Homo sapiens: one gene and its partner. The protein of the gene in region 2 purifies or fractionates together with the protein of the main gene of each other region. This does not show direct contact. Each region holds a gene or a part of one and is shown on either strand. Other genes may lie near its edges. The genes, in order: ATP23 and CHST12.

Region 1 (10,599 bases), on a different chromosome or scaffold from region 2:
CTGTTGGTATATAGAAGAGCTACTGATTTGTGTACATTAATCTTGTATCCAGAAACTTTGCTGAATTCTTTTATCTGTTCTAAGAGCTTTCTGGAGGAGTCTTTGGAGTTTTCAAGGTAAACAATCATATCACCAGCAAACAGTGACAGTTTGACTTTCCCTTTACCAATTTGGATGCCCTTTATTTCTTTCTCTTGTCTGATTGCTCTGGCTTGGACTTCCAGTACTATGTTGAAGAGGAGTGGTGAGAGTGGGCATCCTTGTCTTGTTCCAGTTCTCAGAGGGAATGCTTTCAACTTTTCCCCACTCAGTATTATGTTGGCTGTGGGTCTATCATAGATGGCTTTTATTACAAGGGACATACCTGTCCCTTGTCTGCCCATTTTGCTGAGAGTTTTAATCATAAAGCAATGCTGGATTTTGTTGAATGCTTTTTCTGCATCTATTGAGATGATCACATGATTTTTGTTTTTAATTGTTTGTGTGGTGTATCACATTTATTGAACTGTGTATGTTAAACCATCCCTGCATCCTTGGTATGAAGCCCACTTAATCATGGTGGATTATCTTTTTGATATGTTGTTGAATTCAGTTAGCTAGTATTTTGTTAATGATTTTAGCATCTATGTTCTTCAAGGATATTGGTCTGTAGTTTTCTTTTATGGTTATGTCCTGCCCTGATTTTGGTATTAGGGTGATGCTGGCTTCATAGAATGAATTAGGAAGGGTTTCTTCTTTCTCTATCTTGTGGAATAGTGTCAAAACGATTGGTATCAATTCTTCTTTGAATGTCTGGTAGAATTCTGCTGTGAATCCATCTGGTCCGGGACTTTTTTTGTTGGTAATTTTTTAATTACCATTTCAATCTCGCTGCTTGTTATTAGTCTGTTCAGGGTATCTAATTCTTCCTGGTTTAAGCTAGGAGGATTGTGTTTTTCCAAGAATTTATCCATCTCTTCTAGGTTTTCCAGTTTATGTGCATAAAGGTGTTCACAGTAGCTTTGAATGATCCTTTGTATTTCAGTGGTGTCAGTTGTAATATCTCCTGTTTTGTTTATTAGTGAAATTATTTGGATTTTCTTTCTTATTTTCTCAGTTAATCTTGCTAATAGTCCATCAATTTTACTTATCTTATCAAAGAACCAGCTTTTTGTTTCATTTATCTTTTGTATTTTTGTTGTTGTTATTGCTGTTTCAATTTCCTTTAGTTCTGCTCTGATCTTGGTTACTTCTTTCTTCTACTGGGTTTGGGTTTGGTTTGTTCTTGTTTCTCTAGTTCCTTGAGGTGTGACCTTAGAATGTCAGTTTGTGCTCTTTTAGTCTTTTTGATATCAGCATTTAGGGCTATGAACCTTCCTCCTAGCACCACCTTTGCTTTATCCCAGGGGTTTGGTAGGTTGTGTCATTATTATCATTCAGTTCAAAGAATTTTTTAATTTCCATCTTGATTTCGTTCTTGACCCAATACTCATTCAGGAGCAAGTTATTTAATTTCCATGTATTTGCATGGTTTTGATGGTTCCTTTTGGAGTTGATTTCCAGTTTTATTCCACTGTGGTCAGAGAGAGTGCTTGATATAATTTTGATTTTCTTAAATTTATTGAGGCTCATTTTATGGCCTATCCTAAGGTCTACCTTGGAGAAAGTTCCATGCACTGTTGAATAGAACGTGTATTCTGTGGTTGTTGCATGAAATGTTCTGTATATATCGGTTAAGTCCATTTGTTCCAAGTTATAGTTTAAATCCCTTGTTTCTTTGTTGACTTTCTGTCTTGATGACCTGTCTAATGCTGTCAGTGGAGTACTGAAGTCCCCCACTCTTGTTGTGTTGCTGTCTCTCATTTCTTAGGTCTATTAGTAATTGTTTTATAAATTTGGAAGCTCCAGTGTTAGATGCATATATGTTTAGGACAGTAATATTTTCCTGTTGGACATGGCCTTTTACCATTATGTAATGTCCCTCTTTGTCTCTTTTAACTGCTGTTGTTTTAAAGTTTGTTTTGTCTGATGTAAGAATAGCCACCCCTGCTCACTTTTGGTGTCCGTTTGCATCAAATGCTTTATTCCACCCCTTTAGTTTAAGTTTATGTGAGTTCTTATGTGTTAGGTGAGTCTCCTGAAGGCAGCAGATAGTTGGTTGGTGAGTTTTTATCCATTCTGTGGTTCTATTTCTTTTAGGTGGAGCATTTAGGCCATTTACATTCAATGTTATAATTGAAATGTGAGGTATCATTGCATTCATCATGCTCTTTGTTGCCTCTGTATTTTGGTTTTTTACTTTTGCTTTTTAATTTGTATTTTCGTTTTACAGATCCTGTGTGATTTATGCTTTAAAGAGGTTCTGTTTTGATGTGTTGCATTTCCAGGATTTGTTTCAAGATTTAGAGCTCCTTTTAAGCAGTTCTTGTGGTGGTGGCTTGGTAGTGGTGAATTCTCCCAGCACTTATTTGTCTGAAAAAAGACTGTATCTTTCCTTCATATATGATGCTTTGTTTCACTGGATACAAAATCCTTGGCTGATAATTGTTTTGTTTGAGGAGGCTGAAGATAGGGCCCCAATCCCTTCTGGCTTGTAGGGTTTCTGCTGAGAAATCTGTTGTTAATCTGATAGGTTTTCCTTTATAGGTTACCTGGTGCTTCTGTCTCACAGCTCTTAAGATTCTTTCCTTCATCTTAACTTTGGATAACCTAGTGACAATGTACTTAAACAATGATCTTTTTGTGATGAATTTCCCAGGTGTTCTTTGTGCTTCTTGTATTTGAATGTCTAGGTCTCTCGCAAGGCCAGAGAAGTTTTCCTTGATTATTTCCCCCATATATGTCTTCCAAGCTTTTAGAATTCTCTTCTTCCTCAGGAACACTGATTATTCTTAGTTTTGGTCACTTAACATAATCCTAGACTTCTTGGAAGCTTTGTTCATATTTTCTTATTCTTTTTTCTTTGTCTTTTTTGGATTGGGTTAATTTGAAGACCTTGTCTTCAAGCTCTGAATTTCTTTCTTCTACTTGTTCAATTCTATTGCTGAGATTTTCCAGAGCATTTTGCATTTCTAAAAGTGTGTCCAAAGTTTCCTGAATTTTTTATTCTTTTTTCTTTAAGCTCTCCATTTCCTTGAATATTTCTCCCTTCACTTCTTATATCATTTTTTGGATTTCCTTGCACTGGGCTTTGCCTTTCTCTGGTGCCTCCCTGATTAGCTTAATAACTAACCTCCTGAATTCTTTTTCAGGTAAATCAGGGATTTCTTCTTGGTTTGAATCCATTGCTGGTGAACTAGTGTGATTTTTTTGTGGGTGTTAAAGAGCTTTTGTTTTGTCATATTACCAGGGTTAGTTTTCTGGTTCCTTCTCATTTGGGTAGTCTCTGTCAAAGGGAAGGTCTAGGGCTGAAGGCCATTGTTCAGGTTCCTTTGTCCCACAGGGTGTTCCCTTGATGTATACCCTCCCCCTTTTCCGATGGATGTGGCTTCCTGTAAGCCAAACTGCTGTGATTGTTGTCTCTCTTCTGGGTCTAGCCACCCAGTGAGTCTACCCAGCTCCATGCTGGTACTGGGGGTTGCCTGCACAGAATCCTGTGATGTGAACCGTCTATGGGTCTCTCGGCTGTGGATACCAGCACCTGTTCCAGTGGAGGTGGCAGGGGGGGTGCAATGGACTCCATGAGGGTTCTTAGCTTTGGTGGTTGAAGGCTCTATTTTTGTGCTGGCTGGCCTCCTGCCAGGAGGTAGCGCTTTCCAGAGAGCATCAGTTGTGGTAGTATGGAGAAGAACTTGTGGTGAGTGGGGCCCTAGAACTCCCAAGATTGTATGCCCTTTTTGTTCAGATACCAGGGTGGGTAGGGAAGGAACATCAGGTCGGGGCAGGGATAGACATGTCTGAGCTCAGACTCTCCTTGGGCAGGTCTTGCTGTGACTGTTGTGGGAGATGAGGGTGAGATTCCCAGGTCACTGGAGTTGTGTCCCTAGGAGGATTATGACTGCCTCTGGGGAGTCATGCAGGTTGTCAGGGAAGTAGGGGAAAGCCGGCAGTCACAGGCCTCACCCAGCTCCCACACAAGCCGAAGGGCCAGTCTCACTCCCACCATGCCCCCCACCACAGCCCCAAGTCTGCTTCCAGGTGGTGGGTGAGACAGGCTTGAAAACTTGCCCCAGGCTACCCACCTCCCAGCTGTGAAAGAAAAGAGCTTGGTTCTTCCCCTCTGTGGATTCTGCACATGGGATTTGTGCCCTCTCCCAAGTTCTGGCCGGGAGGCTTCTTGCCCCATTGAAATAGTTACAAAGTTCAGCTAGAGATGTCCTTCTCCCTGTGGAGTTTTACCCGCTGCTCTTCTGGCTGCCCTTGCAATGGATCTCTGTGGTGACAGGCAGGAATGGGCTGCTTGGGGACCCAGCGAGCTCCCTGGGCCTTCCTGCTGCTTGCTCTACCCCTGTATTTCGCTCGGCTCTCTAAATTAACTCAGCTCCAGGTAAGGTCGGAAACTTCTCCCACAAACAGACCTTCAGTTTCTCCAGTGGGGGGGTGTGTGTGGGAGAGGAGGGTCTCCCTTTCCCACTTCTGCAGTTGGGCACTCACAGTATTTGGGGTGTCTCCTGGGCACTGTAGGAGCAGTCGCTTCCTTCAGAGGGTCTGTGGGTCCTCTCAGTATTGCTGGTTTGTTCTTGCAGTCGATCTGGAGCTAAAATTCGAGCACTGCCTTTATTAAAAAGAAAAAGATCTAACCAGGACTGTCCCCAGAAAATTAGGCCATATGGGTCCCACATATATGATAAAAGAAGAATAGGGAGAGGATAGCATTGACCACTGAATGAATTATTTCCAATTTTCATCATAACAACAGCTCAATAAGTATCCTACAATGAGATCAGTACACATTTCTTTACATTTAATGTAAATACCAACAGTGGTCACCTATCAACATCATGGAAGAGCACACTTCACAGGTTTCATAATCAAATTTTAAAATAATCACATGTAATAAAAACAAATGACTAAAATACAAAAATGTAATGTATTTATTTACTAAATGGTTAGCTATAAAGATACAATTTCTGCCTTGGAGTTTAAAGCAGTTTCATTTTTTGCCATAGTTACTTTTTCTGATAATATGCTAGAATCACAGTCTTCTCTGTTTTATCTGGATTGTAGGGATTGTTTACATTTTATATGTTTGTTCACTTGAGAACCAAATTTTTTTTTCTTCATGATGATGGAAGCTCTGTAATATAAAAATGTCATTGTGCTCATATATTTGAATAATACCGATCACGGTTTTCAAAGTCTCTGTGAGCATATCTTGCATAAGTCTTGTTATGTGGGATCCTTCCAAAAGGTTCATGGTCATTGAAACAAGATTCAAAAACTTCATCAACAGCCTTTTTAGCTACTTCTTTGCTGATATTCCTAACAGCCAGGATAGAAAGAGTGGCTCTGTCTCGCACACAAGTCTAAAAAGAAGGAAAAGTATGAGGCTCTAATTTTATATAAACATTTAATCACGAAATAATACATTTTATCTAATGTCTGAATTAATTAAAATTAATTTCCTCATATTATTTTACTAATTTCTGTCATTCCAAAGAAGAAAACAAAATGAACAAAGATCCATAACACTTAAGGAGTATTTTTAGCTCAACCTAAAATTATTTAGGCATAAGTAAGACCTTCTCCATTTTCTCATCTTTCCCACTGATATAAGCAGATGTCATTCTCAGAAATTCTTGGCAGTGTCTGCCAAACAATATCTCCCAATTTGCAAACTCGCCAAAAAAAAAAAAAAAGTCTATAAAGTCCTGATTGACTTTTTGATAAAATTTAATTAAATTTAAAATATACTTCACTTCTGTACCTCTCTTTCTTTTCAGTTGACCAATGCTAGATAACTTTTCCTTTGAGAAGGGTAAGTCCTCTCTGGAGGCAACAGGAAACCATACACATATCCACCCGAACTTGGAATGTACCTTAATTTTTTAGGGGGTGTGGAAATTAAACAACTTTTTTTTCCTGATTGTTCTTTACACAGATATTAAAGTTCTAAGATAATAATTTACCTAACATTTCATAGTAATAGGCTAGAATTTCTCAATACTCTAATTTAAATATTTAAGAAATATAAGGCCCTGCCATTCCAATTCTTGGAGAGCTTTTAATCCATTTATTTCTCCCCAGGACCAATCTAAAACTCAAAAGAATGGCATTTGACCTTTTCCTAAAAATAATCAAACACTGGTTTGGATGGCTGTGCATCCTGACAGCCATCCGTTTTCTCCACATGTTCCCAGTTTTTCATTGGCCTGGTCAGTGTGCTCAAGCTGGAGATATTCACTAACATTGGAATATAGTGTTTCTCAACCTGAATTTTACTAAACGCTGATTTTAAAAAATAAACCCCAGGCATAAAGGAACAAGAAAAGGAAGAACCATGTGAAGCCAAAACAACAGTTGCTAAAAAGAGAGGAAATTTCTCCCCTCCAGGGAAAAAAGGTACAAAAATTTGTCTCCTGAAGCCACAGGGTTGGGAGACACAAGTGTAGACCACAGATTTACTTCTTTTCAGACATAATAAATTTCTGTTAAAATAAAGATATGACTATGCAATTTTACAATCAGTAACTGTACTTGCTGTTTCTATTTCCTGGGTACATGCTGTACAAAAGCAGGGACTCCATTCTCTAAGACTCTTCTCCCTCAGCCAGATTCCTACTACCTCCACTTATTTTCTGTCCTATTGCTGTTTCTATTTGTTTTCTGCTGCTGCTACCCAATGGTAAAAAGAGGAAAACTTCCTCTTTCAAAGATTGTGTGCATCACAAACCTATCACAAAGATAGAAGGTGAATTAAAAAAAAAAAAAACATGCTCTATTTCTTTAGTATATCAACTGATTTTTTTTTAATTGGAAAAGAATATAAAATTAGCATATTTTTCTAAAAACAGAGTATATGTAATAGTTTTTTTTTTTAAGGAATTTTTCAAACTCTATTGACAAGAGCAGATATCCATAAGCTATGCCAGCACATGCTTTAACCACATTATTCTCTTCTCTAGGGGCGTGCTGATGTGTACCCTGCTTCCACCCTCTCCACTGACAGCCAGAACACACAGAATTCACCAGAGAAGCAGGGACTCAAGGGCACAGAAAACATGCAGCACAAGACAAGTCACTGGCATATCACTAAGCTGACCTGGCAGAGGCTGAACACCTCACTGTCTAGAGTAATCACCCTTTCCAGGCAGAAGGCTTTTCTTCTCCCTCCCATTCACTAAGTTCACAATTTCTGAGTAGCTCACTGTGACTTTCCACCCCCCACTCCAGAGTTGAGTTACTCTCTTCTCCAGAAAACCAAGGGCCTTCCTGTTGTCCTAAGCCTATCTTTTTTCATCTAGTTGGAACTGATATCGTGATGCTCATATACTTCACAAACTGACTCAGCAGGCTCTTACTGTAGAAAATGACTGACCAGCCTTTCTCCTAAATGTGGACACAGGCCCAGGCAGAACTGCTCACATTCATTATCAATCCATGAGTCCTATACTTTCTTTCCCCACGTCCACCTAATACAGATCTCAAAGCCTTTCTACCAGGATAATCTTGCCTTATAGCTCTCTTTTGTTTTTTGTTTTTGTTTTGTTCACACAAATCCCTCTCAGCTAAGCTCATCATACTCAAGTCTGTGCTAAGCCAAAGGTTTTCTATCACATTATATAGCCTTTACAGGTACACTGACACATAGCCATAACTTGTGCAGCAACACACTCTCTGTTCTGAAAGGGATTACATCTTTTGTCTCCAGAATGCTATGGTAGATTCAAAATAGAAGTCAAGAATTGTTAGAATAACAGTAAGACATGCTGTGATTTCACTTCCATTCCTTATCCACCCCCATCGAAAAGTATCCCAGATGCAAGATCTTAGCTCCTTTTTTTTTTTTTTTTTTTTTGAGATGGAGTCTCACTCTGTGGCCCAGACTGGAGTGCAGTGGCATGATCTCGGCTCACTGCAACCTCCATCTCCCAGATTCAAGTGATTCTCCTGCCTCAGCCTCCATAGTAGTTGGGACTACAGGTGTGCTCCACTACGCCCAGCTAATTTTTTTGTATTTTTAGTAGACACGGGGTTTCACCATGTTGGCCACGCTGGTCTCGATCTCCTGACCTCGTGATCCGCCCGCCTCGGCCTCCCAAACTGCTGGGAGGCATAAGCCACCGCACCAGGCCTCTTTTCATTATTAGACTATCTCACACACTCATTGAGTCACATAGCTTGCCCATAATTACAAAGTAGAACTAAATTCCATCTACTTTGTTTAAATGGTACATACTTTGTATTCTTTTCACATACGAAGTTCTTTCAAATTTCAAATACTGAATGTACTTTTCATTTCTTTATTCATTATTTCCACTCGTAACACTCTGGAGGGGAAGTGATTTCATATTAGTTTTTACCTGGTGGTGTTGTTTTAATCCAAAATGTAACCTGAATATTTCATTGACAAGTGAGCAGTCTCCACTAAGGTTAGCAGCTCGAACCTATCACACAGAAGACAAATAAAAAGAAATAAACGCTCATGCTCTATATATCTTTATGATATCAACCAATTTTTAAAAATTAGAAAAGAATATAAAATTAGCATCTTTGTCTGAGAAAAGAGTATTTGTGACACTTCTTCTTAAAGGACTTTTTAAACTCTATTGACAACGAGAGCAAATATCTATGAGCTATGCTAGACAATGCCAAATACACTGGAGAGATGGGGAAAAGTTCAATCGCCTACCAAAGGAAATTTTCTAAACTTTATGCGTAGCTTTACTGACAGAACTAATTTCTTTTGGAACCAAAAGTCAGAGAGCTAGACCTCAGAGTTAAACTACACACTCTACAAGATACAAATACTTGTAGAAATTGCCAAAAGTACTTCAAGAAAGCATTCTTGAAATAAACTGAGTTTCAATGTGACCTTAAAACTGAATGCATTAATATCTGAGACACTTTGAGAATATGCCCCTCCCAACCCTTGCCCGAATCTCCCTTGGAGCTTCCCTCAAACCTATATAAGTTCATGACCTTCCTCTAGGGACTTGATTGTCCTATGAAAAATGAAGCAATACAAAACACAAAGAATCAAGAACATTCCAAACTGGTCACGCTATGAGCATGACAGCCTGAAATTAGGACATATTTTCAGATTTACTATACTTCAATGAATGAAAAAGTCTTAGAACTACCCACATAGATTCTACAGGCAGCTTGACCACATTTTTGCTAATTCATTGCTAACAGAATGGCCCACTTCTTGTTCCTTCTTCAATATTATGGCCTCATTCCTCTGAGGAGCTCAAAGTACTTAACACACTTTAACTAGCTAAAAGGCATTAATTCTCACAGTACCCAAGAAAGAGACCTATTTAAAAATTCAGGTTTCAGTCTATTCTCCAAATAATTGGAATTATAATTAGATGCAGGGGGCTACATATTAATTTCAAGAGAAAGGGAAATAATCGAAGTTATATAGTATAGGCTTGAGATTTAGATTATTTTAATTAACTCTTCAATTAATGACATCCAAGTATATGCATATGCAGAATACGCTCTCTCTAGGAGCATATTCCAAGAGCAATCCAACGTGCTTAGTAATAAATATCTTTTTATGTTGTATTTTTGAAAAGAGCATGTTTTACTCTAGGGCAAGCAAGGAGCTCTATGGAAGGCAGCTGGGCAAGCTAGTTAAAAACACTAGTTGTAATCCTGCCTCTACCACTTACTAACTTTGGAATCTAAACAACTGTCTCACTTTCCACATATGTAAAACAGGGACAATAATAGTATAATATCTATCTCAGTAGGTTATTGTGAAGATTAAATAAGAATCTGTGCAAACAGAACAGTGTTTGGAACACAGCCCTCAGTAAATTTTAATTATTTTTTTATTTTTATTTTTATTATTAATGTCTCCTATGGAATACATTATAAAATATATTCCATAGGAAAAAATTAATAGCTTATTAAAGTCAGTCATCACTATTACTAGGACTTACAGGATATAGTTAAGAGAATTCTAAAAATACACTTTAAATTTCTCTAACTGTATATCAAAAATGGTATTCAATGTTAGTTATAAACCGAAATTCAAGACTAAGGTAGAACTATGACAGTAAGAAAAGGAATACATTTAAATAAATTACACTTGAATAAAATATTCAAGCATAGAGTATTCTGGAGAAAAATACAATAAAACTCACCTCTGAGCACGCCAAATGTCTGATGTTGGTGAACCAGTCGACATGGGCACGACAATGATCAAATGCATGAATAAGCTCGTGTGTGACCACTCTGTTCATATGGGCCTGATTATGGATATTATTCTGGCACAAAACTATCTAGGAGACACCAAAATAAAAGAAGTTCAGTGATTCTAAAATCTCCTTCCATAGACTCGATCTTCTCTCCCACATGACCTCACCTCTCCCCCACAAGCTCACCTGCCTGGAATATCTCTACCCACTCTTCTTCATTGGCCACACATCTACCCATGGGACAAGTCCTAGTCCTAAGTGTACATGCTCCAATTGCCTCGCCCAGTGACTAACTTCTCCCTTCTCCTCT
Region 2 (10,599 bases):
GTCTTCTCCCATGCTGTCTATTTGATCTTTATTTTTTTGGGTGGAGAACTTACCACTTATCCCACTATACGTTTCCATCTCTTATTTATTTTCAGCTTTACTTCTCGTCTTTCCAGGGTGTCATCTTTCTGAATGCAGATTCTGGGGAGTCTGCACTCTGGTGGTGGCAGCACAGGTGCCAGGGGTCAGGGGTTAGACGCTCTGGGGGAAGGGCCTGGCAGAAGGCAGTAAGCTGGAGGGAGAGACAGGCTGGGGACGACGGGGCTCGCTAGATCAGCAGGGGACCTCTTTGGGGGACCTGCATAGTCCGGGATGGGAGTAGGTAGATGGGCATCGTGCGAAGGGACTGCCAGTGAGAAGAGGGCAGCTGGCTGTGGGGACGAATATTCAGGGGGCTGGGACTCATTTCTGTAAAGGAACCAACGTCCTTAGCAAGAAGCCAAGGCAGGAAGGTGGCCCAGGGTTGCCCCAGGATAGGACCTGGCATGGAACCTCAGGGGCTTGGTCACAAGGGGCTTCAGAGCCAGGCTGATGTGATGGGGGCCTCTGAGCCTGAGATTCACTCGGTATTGACTGCACCCTACCATGTGCATGCACGTGGTGAGCACAACCAGACGGAGCCCACCCTCCCCAGCTATGTGAGTGAGAGCGGGAGTAATTAAACATACACACCCCAAATAAGCACACAGTTGCTGATGGGACCTATGGAGAGTGCATAGTCTGGGATTTGACCCAACTGGGAAAGACTTCGCTGAGCTGGGGATGAGTAGGTGTCTACTGATGACGGGGCAGGGGCGGGTAGACAGATGTCCTTGCCTTGTTCATGATCTTGGTGGTAAGGTACTCACTCTTGCACCCTTAATTATGAGGTTAGCTGTAGGTTTTTTTTTTTAAAGCACTCAGATTGTTGCTAATATTAAAAAAATATAACATACAAGAGTGACAGGAGAGACATACAGTCCGGGTGTGGTGGCTTATGCCTGTAATCCCAGCACTTTGGAGGCCGAGGAAGGTGGATCACTTGAGGTCAGGAGTTCAAGACCAGCCTGGCCAACATGGTGGAGCTCCATCCCTACTAAAAATACAAAAATTAGCCGGGTGTCAGGGTGGGCACCTGTAATCCTAGCTGCCTGGGAGGCTGAGGCATGAGAATCACTTGAACCTGGGAGGCGGAGGTTGCAGTGAGCCAAGATCATGCCACTGCACTCCAGCCTGGGTGACACAGCGAGACCCTGTCTCACAAAAGAAAAAGAGAGAGAGAGAGAGACATATAAATGAAAAAGTACTCAGTTTAAGAAATTTGTAGCACTTTGCAAGGCCGAGGTGGCCAGGCTGAGGCATGAGAATCACTTGAACCCGGGAGGCGGAGGTTGCAGTGAGCCAAGATCATGCCACTGCACTCCGGCCTGGGTGACACAGCGAGACCCTGTCTCACAAAAGAAAAAAGAGAGAGAGAGAGACATACAAATGTAAAAATACTCAGTTTAAGAAATTCATAGCACTTTGCGAGGCCGAGGTGGCCAGCTTGCTAGAGCCCAGGAGTTCAAGACCAGCCGGGTTAACATGGTGAGACCACAACTCTATAAAAAATTTTTAAAAATTAGCCCGGCCCAGTGGTGTGTATCTGCAGTCCCAGCTACTTGGAAGGCTGAGACGGGAGGATCACTTGAGCCTAGGAGGTCAAGGCTGCAGTGAGCTGTGATTGTGCCACTGCACTCCAGCTTAGGTGACAGAGCAAGGCTCTGTCTTGAAAAAAAAAAAAAAAAGTTTACACATTTGTTTGAAGATGAAAAGTTCAACACAGTTTGGGCCTTCCATCTGCCACCCCCCCCTACAGAGATGATAGAAAAATGGTACAGCTGTAGGGTGTTTGTAGATGCCCTATAAGTTGAGGATATCCTCTTTGCTAAGTTTGCTGAGAGTGTTTATAATGAATGGATATGGGTTTTGTTGTTCCTTCCTGTAGGAGTTGATTTTTTAGCTTGTTAATATGATAGATTACATGGTTGATTTTTGAACATTGAGCCGTTCTTGCATACCCTACTTGGTCATGCCGTGACTCCTTTTTGTTTGTTTGTTTTTTGAGATGGAGTCTTGCTCTGTCACCCAGGCTGGAGTGCAGTGGTGCGATCTCGGCTCACTGCAACCGCCACCTCCCAGATTCAAGCGATTCTCCTGCCTCAGCCTCCCGAGTAGCTGGGACTACAGGCACCCGTCACCATGGCCAGCTAATTTTTTGTATTTTTAGTAGAGACGGGGTTTCACCGTGTTTGGATCTCCTGACCTCGTGATCCACCCACCTCGGCCTCCCAAAGTGCTGGGGTTACAGGCGTGAGTCACTATGCTGTGATTCTTTCTATACACTGCTGGATTTGGTTTATTAATATTTTGAGCATTTTTGCATCCAAGTTCATAAGTGATATTGGCCTGTAGCTTTCTCTCTCTCTTTTTTTTTTTTTTTGAGACAGAGTCTTGCTCTATCACCCAGGCTGGAGTGCAGTGGCACAATCTCGGCTCACTGCAAGCTCTGCCTCTCGGGTTCAAGTGATTTTCCTGCCTCAGCCTCCTGAGTATCTGGGATTACAGGCGTCCACCACCATGCCCAGCTAATTTTTTGTATTTTTTAGTAGAGACGGTATTGTGGGATCTGGCCAGAAGCCCACAATGCAACGGGGCTCTTTTATTTGTTCCCAGGCGGATCAGCAGGTCGAGAAATAATAGACACACACAAGACAGTGAAAGCTGGGTCCGGGGGGTGACCGCCTTCTGGTCCTGCGATGCCGCCAATGCACTGGATATACCAGCATTTATTATTAAGTTTAGTGAGGGCGGGGGTAGGTTAGTGAGGGATTTAGGGTCATTTGATTATGAGGTGAGATGGTCACATGGGGATGAAGTAATTCTTTAACATAACATCTGTATGCAGAAGTACAGTATACAGAGATAAGAATTTACAATATAGCATGTGCATCAGTAATTTCTAACAGCCTTAAAACAGAAACACAGGCTTTCCATAACCTATGATTAGCAAGATATTAATCAGCAGTAATAGTTGCAGCAAAAGCTGGTTACAAACAATCCATAGAAACAGGACGTGAAGCTAGACAGCCAGTTAGACCAGAAATTCTCAGAAGGGAGTATGCCTTAACCCTAAAGAGGCCTAGAAGAGCCGTGGCAAGATGAGGGCGTTTATAGCACTATCTTATCCATATGGACAGGCGCCCCCCATGCGTCCGTTTGTAGGCTCTCCACAAGGGTCGCATTCCATTCCCAGAGCTATGAACATCTGCTTTTCTGGGATAGGAATCTTGGTGATGTGAAAGCTCCCTGACTGCATGTCCGTTCATAGGCTCTCTGCAGGGGGAAGCATATCACGTGCTGTTGGCTCATTCTGACAGTCCAACCTGGCATTGTCTTTACACAATCCTGAATGCAACTTTGTATTTACAGTAATCAGGAGCATTTCATCTTTTATTCCATAGCAATAGTTTCAGGGGGTCTCCCTACAAGACAGGGTTTCGCCATGTTGGCCAGGCTGGTCTTGAACTCCTTGACCTCAGGTGTTCCTCCTGCCTCAGCCTACCAAAGTGCTAGGATTACAAGCGTGAGCCACGACGCCCGGCCTCTTTTTTTTTGTACTTATTTTCACTGGTTTGGGTATTAGGATGATGAGTTGGACATGTCCTCTCTTCTCCTTTCTGTAAGAGATTGTATAAAATTGATGTTGTTATTCTTTGAATGTTTGATAGAATTCTTCAGTGAAACCATCTGGGCCCAGAGATTTCTTTTTAAGGAGCTTTTACGTTACAAATTTAGTTTCTTTAATTAGTATAGGATTATTCATTTTGGTAGTTTGTGGTTGTCAAGGAATTGGTCTGTTTCATCTAGGTTGCTAAATTTGTGGGCGTAAAATTGTTTGTAATAGTTCCTTATCCTTTCAATGGCTGCAGGATCTATAATTTCATTCCTTGTCTTGTTCCTGATAAAGATAATTTGTAGGTTTTTTTCATTTGTTTGGTTGGTTTTTTGTTTTTGTTTTTCTTTTGAGACAGGGTCTTGGTCTTGCTAAGACCAAGGCTGGAGGGCAGTGGCACGATCTCGGCTTACTGCAGCCTTGACCTCCTGGGCTCAAGCGATCCTCCTGCCTCAGCCTCCAGAGTAGCTAGGACTACAGGTGCATGCCACCATGCACGGCAGATTTTTGCATTTTTTATAGGGATGGGGTTTTGCCATGTTGTCTAGGCTGGTCTTGGACTCTAGGGCTCAAGAGACCCTCTCGCCTCGGCTTCCCAAAGTGCTAGGATTATAGGAGAGAGCCACCGTGCCCGGCCTTTTCTGCTTTCTAATGCTCTTGGCACCACAGTGACTGTAACATATGTTGTATTTTCATTCTCATTCTATTCTGTGTACTTTAACTTTTTCCTTTGCTATTATTTAGAAATGTGTCATTTATTTTCCAGGAATTTGTGTTTGTGGATTTTCCTGTTGTCTTTTCTGTTATTGATTTCTAGTTTTATTCCTTTATATAAAATATTTCAATTCTTTTATTTTTATTTATTTATTCATTTTTATTTATTTTTTTGAGATGGAGTCTTGCTCAGTCACCCAGGTTGGAGTGCAGTGGCACAATCTTGGCTCCTTGCAACCTCTGCCTCCTGGGTTCAAGCGATTCTCCTGCCTCAGTCTCCTGAGTAGCTGGGATTACAGGCGCCTGCCACCATGCCCAGCTAATTTTTGCATTTTTTTAGTAGAGACGGGGTTTCACCATGTTGGCCAGGCGGGTCTTGAACTCCTGACCTCAGGTGATCCACCTGCCTTGGCCTCCCAAAGTGCTGGGATTACAGGCATAAGCCACCATGCCCAGCCTAAATTTTGTATTTTCAGTAGAGACAGTTTCACCATGTTGGCCAGGCGGGTCTCCAACTCCTGATCTCAAGTGATCCACCTGCCTCGGCCTCCCAAAGTGCTGGGATTACAGGCATGAGCCACCACACCCAGCCTAAATTTTGTAATTTCAGTAGAGACAGGGTTTCACCATGTTGGCCAGGCTGGTCTCCAACTCCTGATCTCAAATGATCCACCCGCCTTGGCCACCTGAAGTGATGGGATTACAGATGTGAGCCACCGTGCCCTGTCAAGATTTCAATTCTTTTAAATTAGCTGAGGTTTGGTCTACCATGGTGAATGTTTTGTGGACACTTAGAAAAAACTGTGTTCTCTTGTTAGGTGAGTGTTCTGCATATGTCGGTTATGTCCTGTTGGTTGCTGGTGTTGAGTTCTTCTGTATCCTTGCTGATTTTCTGCCTCATAGTTTTGTCAGTTATCAAGAGTGAAGTGTTGAAGTCTCCAGCCATAATTGTGGATTTGTCTGTTTATCCTTTAGCTCTATCGATTTTTGCTTTTTGTATTTTGAGGCTCTGTTGTTTGGTGCATACATGTTTAGGATTGTTATGTCTTCCTGGGGATTGAACTGTTTGTCATTATGTAATGTCCTTTTGTCTCTAGTAGTTTCCTTCCTTCTGAAATTTGCTTCATCTGATATTAAGATAGCCACTCCTGCTTTCTTTTCATTAATATTTGCATGATTAATGTTTTCCATTCCCGGGAGAGAGGAGGTGAGAAAGTAGAGGGCCAACTTGCCCCACCTCTAACCACCTCACGCCATGTCATGGGTGCCAGATAGGGGTGGAGTAGAGTTGGAGTTCAGCTCCTACTGGGCCCTGACCTGGCTGGGGGAGAGGGAGTCAGAGTGTGGACTCTCCTGCCTCACACCATCTCCTTCCACCTTGTGGATGCCAGGTGGGGTCAAGGCTTAGCTCCCTGCTGGACCACACTGACAGTACCCTGGTGGGACAGACAGAGGAAGCACCTCTACTTCCATGGGCAGAGGAAGGGGTATCAGCTCCCAGCTCAGCCCCACCAACACCCCCTGGTGCCTGGCAGGGGAATAGCAATGTGCCACTTACTTTTGGGAAGCCAGGGTGGTGTGGAAGGTCAGCTCTCAGGGTGGCCCTGATGAAGCTGTAGGGTGCAGTTTTTCCATTGGCATTCGACTTAAGTAGAGTGGGTGTTGCCAAAACAATTTTCCTGTTGTTGGGTCACTGTGAAGTTAAGGAATGGTTCCCAAGACCCCTCTTACTTATGACACCAATAGCAAATGCAGGCGTCCCTGAGACCACTGTGGGGTTTGATGATTTGCTAGAAAGATTACAGAGCTCACTGATCACAGTTATTCTTGTGGCTATGGTTTATTATAGGAAAAGGATATAGATTCGAAGATTAAAATCAGCCTTGGCAGGAGAATGGCGTGAACCTGGGAGGTGCAGCTTGCAGTGAGCCAAGATCGGGCCACTGCACTCCAGCCTGGGCGACAGAGCGAGACTCCATATCAAAAAAAAAAAAAAAAAAAAAAAAAAAAAAAAAAAATCAGCCTTGGGAAGAGTTGCAGAGGGCAGAGTCCAGGAGGGCTCACACCTGGAGCTGGTCTCCACTCCCTGGGAGGCGTCCTCTTCTTGGGAGTTGTGGGCAATATTACTTTCCCGCCAGTGGCGAGTGTCAGCACATGTGGAGTACTGCCAGCCAGGGAAGCACGCGAGCCTTGGCGTCCAGGGTCATTACTGGTGCTCGGGCACATGGATGTGTAGACTCCCTGCACTGCTGACCTCAGCCTCCAGCCCCTCTGGAGGGCGAGCTGATATCACGTGGCCCAGCGCTCCTGCTCCTCCGGACCCCAGTCCCCCACTGATCAGAAGGCAGGAGTCAGAGCCCCAGTGCACCTCAGTCATTAACTAGTGTGTCATTGCATCTGCAGGTTCCCAGCAGGATGCCCCGGCTCTGCAGGAAGCTGAAGTGAGAGGCCCGGAGAGGGCCCAGCCCGCCCGGGGCAGGATGACCAAGGCCCGGCTGTTCCGGCTGTGGCTGGTGCTGGGGTCGGTGTTCATGATCCTGCTGATCATCGTGTACTGGGACAGCGCAGGCGCCGCGCACTTCTACTTGCACACGTCCTTCTCTAGGCCGCACACGGGGCCGCCGCTGCCCACGCCCGGGCCGGACAGGGACAGGGAGCTCACGGCCGACTCCGATGTCGACGAGTTTCTGGACAAGTTTCTCAGTGCTGGCGTGAAGCAGAGCGACCTTCCCAGAAAGGAGACGGAGCAGCCGCCTGCGCCGGGGAGCATGGAGGAGAGCGTGAGAGGCTACGACTGGTCCCCGCGCGACGCCCGGCGCAGCCCAGACCAGGGCCGGCAGCAGGCGGAGCGGAGGAGCGTGCTGCGGGGCTTCTGCGCCAACTCCAGCCTGGCCTTCCCCACCAAGGAGCGCGCATTCGACGACATCCCCAACTCGGAGCTGAGCCACCTGATCGTGGACGACCGGCACGGGGCCATCTACTGCTACGTGCCCAAGGTGGCCTGCACCAACTGGAAGCGCGTGATGATCGTGCTGAGCGGAAGCCTGCTGCACCGCGGTGCGCCCTACCGCGACCCGCTGCGCATCCCGCGCGAGCACGTGCACAACGCCAGCGCGCACCTGACCTTCAACAAGTTCTGGCGCCGCTACGGGAAGCTCTCCCGCCACCTCATGAAGGTCAAGCTCAAGAAGTACACCAAGTTCCTCTTCGTGCGCGACCCCTTCGTGCGCCTGATCTCCGCCTTCCGCAGCAAGTTCGAGCTGGAGAACGAGGAGTTCTACCGCAAGTTCGCCGTGCCCATGCTGCGGCTGTACGCCAACCACACCAGCCTGCCCGCCTCGGCGCGCGAGGCCTTCCGCGCTGGCCTCAAGGTGTCCTTCGCCAACTTCATCCAGTACCTGCTGGACCCGCACACGGAGAAGCTGGCGCCCTTCAACGAGCACTGGCGGCAGGTGTACCGCCTCTGCCACCCGTGCCAGATCGACTACGACTTCGTGGGGAAGCTGGAGACTCTGGACGAGGACGCCGCGCAGCTGCTGCAGCTACTCCAGGTGGACCGGCAGCTCCGCTTCCCCCCGAGCTACCGGAACAGGACCGCCAGCAGCTGGGAGGAGGACTGGTTCGCCAAGATCCCCCTGGCCTGGAGGCAGCAGCTGTATAAACTCTACGAGGCCGACTTTGTTCTCTTCGGCTACCCCAAGCCCGAAAACCTCCTCCGAGACTGAAAGCTTTCGCGTTGCTTTTTCTCGCGTGCCTGGAACCTGACGCACGCGCACTCCAGTTTTTTTATGACCTACGATTTTGCAATCTGGGCTTCTTGTTCACTCCACTGCCTCTATCCATTGAGTACTGTATCGATATTGTTTTTTAAGATTAATATATTTCAGGTATTTAATACGAAATGTGGAAGGGAATGCTGGAGTAAAATATCCCCTCTCCCCTCCGCCCGCCCACCCGCCCGCCCGCTCGCCCGCTCGCCCGCTCCTGTGGTTTTTCTGAGCGTGCGGGCGCCGGGAGGGGATGCTGAGGCTGATGGAGCTGCCTCCAGGGCTAGGGCCACTCACCGGAGGAGGGCGGGGCCTGCACTTGAAGTCAGGCCGCACCTGTCTGTTTTTGGAAGGGTAGCCGACAAATCCTTCCAGAGGGAAAGTTCTTTGTTTAAGTGTTGTACTTGAAAAGGTCAATCTTCAGGGCTTCCTGTTTGAAGTCAAGTCAGAGGTAAACCGGTCAGTTACAGAAGCAGGATTTCTAGGATTTCTAACTCCAGCTGTTCCCATACTGTCTAGTTTAAATTATGGCTGTTAAGGCCGGGCGGGTGACTCAGGCAGGTAATCCCAGAACTTTGGGAGGCCCAGACAGAAGGATCGCTTGAGGTCAGGAATTTGAGACCTGGCCAACATGGTGAAACCCTGTCTCTACTAAAAAAAAAAAAAAAAAAAAAAAAAAAAAAAAAAAAATGAGTCGGGTGTGGTGGTGTGCACCTGTAGTCCCAGCTACTCAGGAGTTCTGAGATGGAAAGATTGCTTGAACCCAGGAGGCAGAGGCTGCAGTGAGCTGAGATCGCGACATTGCACTCTAGCCTGGGTGACAGAGTGAGATTCCATCTCAAAATAAATAAATAAATATTAATACATTATGGCTATTAAGGCTGGGCACGGTGGCTCATGCCTGCAATCCTGGCACTTTGGGAGGCTGAGGGGGGAAGATCACTTGAGCCCAGGAGTTCAAGACCAGCTTGGGCAACATAGCAAGGACCTCATCTCTACAAAAAATAAAAAGGACGTGGTGGTGCACATCTGTAAACCCAGCTACTCAGGAGGCTGAGGAGGGAGGATCACTTGAGCCCAGGAGTTCAAGATCAGTTTGGACCACATAGCGAGACCCTGTGTCTACAAAAAATAAGAAAATCAGCCGGACATGATGGTGCACACCTGTAATCCCAGCTACTCGGGAGGCTGAGGCAGGAGGATCGCTGGAGCCCAGGAGTTCAAGGCTGCAGTGACCTATGATCGTGCCACTGCACTCCAGCCTGGGCAGCAAAGTGAGACTCTGTTTCTAAATAGACAGATAGAAGATAGGTAGATAGATAGATTAAATAGAAAGTAAACTATGGCTGTTGAGGTTTACAGTTGGCAGGAGTGGAGTGGTTTGGCGTTTATCTCTAGACCGTGCTGGATGACAGTACCCAGTGTCACCAAGAAGAGGCTCCGTGTGACTGTCTCTGTGGCTTTCTGGTTGGTTTAGCTCCAGTGCCTTCACCCTCAAGGACACGACTGACCTTGAACCCTCAGGTTTGATGGGCCCTGTCTTGATAAAAGTGTCAGAGGAGGCTCTGGAAACATCTGGCTGAAACTCCTTTGCTATTTCTGCTTCTAAGCTGTAGTTGGAGAGATGGTTGCAATCATTTCGTGGTGTCGGGCACCCTGCTTGACCTGTCTTCCTCGTGTGTGGTATTTGTCACCACTGCCCAGTCCCTGGTTGCTGGCCACGCTCAGTTGGGACATACCCTGGTGTCCTCTGTGTGTGGTGTCCCTGTGTTTCCCAGGCTCAGGTGGGCTTGTGTGGGTCTTGGCCCCCAGTGCCTGCTAGCCTCAGGTGTCCCCTGTGTTAGACACCTCCTGCCTTCCTTTCTGAAGCTTCGCTTTCTTTTATTTTTGTTTTGTTTTGTTTTTGGAGACAGGGTCTCGCTCTGTCATCCGGGCTGGAATACACTGGTGCAATCACAGCTCACTGCAGCTTCAACCTCCTGGGCTCAAGTGATCTTCCCATCTCAGACTCCCAAGTAGCTGGGGTTACAGGTGAGCGCCAGCCTGCCCAGCTAGTTTTTTATTTTCAGCAGAGATGAGGTCTCACTGTGTTGCCCAGGCTGCTCTCAAACTCCTGGGCTCAAGTGACCCTCCTGCATCACCCTCCCAAAGTGCTGGGATTACAGGCATGAGCCATCACACCTGGCCCCTCCAAGTTTTTTATTATGATAAAAATGTTTAATTTTAAACGTACCATCTTAACCATTGTTAAGTGCACTGTTGTGTGGCATTAAGCACATTCGTATTGTCGTGCCACCACCACCATCATCTCCAGAGCTTTCTCATCTTCCCAAACTGAAACTCTGTCCCCATTCAGCACTCGCTCCCCATTGGTAGAAGGCAGCAGCTTCCACTCTCTGATTTCTACTACCCGAGCTCCCTCAG

Evidence for each region.
Region 1: the proteins of CHST12 (region 2) and ATP23 purify together in Homo sapiens (affinity purification with mass spectrometry; 2 studies listed by BioGRID and IntAct, with this or other methods). This does not show direct contact.

Annotation. Positions count from the first base shown.
Region 1 is NC_000012.12:57,951,532-57,962,130, reverse strand, and holds the end of ATP23 (mitochondrial inner membrane protease ATP23 homolog), read right to left. Parts: intron 10,374-10,599; coding exon 10,236-10,373; intron 8,526-10,235; coding exon 8,442-8,525; intron 5,445-8,441; coding exon 5,241-5,444; 3' UTR 2,983-5,240; downstream 1-2,982.
Region 2 is NC_000007.14:2,425,752-2,436,350, forward strand, and holds part of CHST12 (carbohydrate sulfotransferase 12), read left to right. Parts: intron 1-6,811; coding exon of another isoform or gene 6,812-6,888; coding exon 6,889-8,133; 3' UTR 8,134-10,599. UniProt on the Homo sapiens protein: Catalyzes the transfer of sulfate to position 4 of the N-acetylgalactosamine (GalNAc) residue of chondroitin and desulfated dermatan sulfate.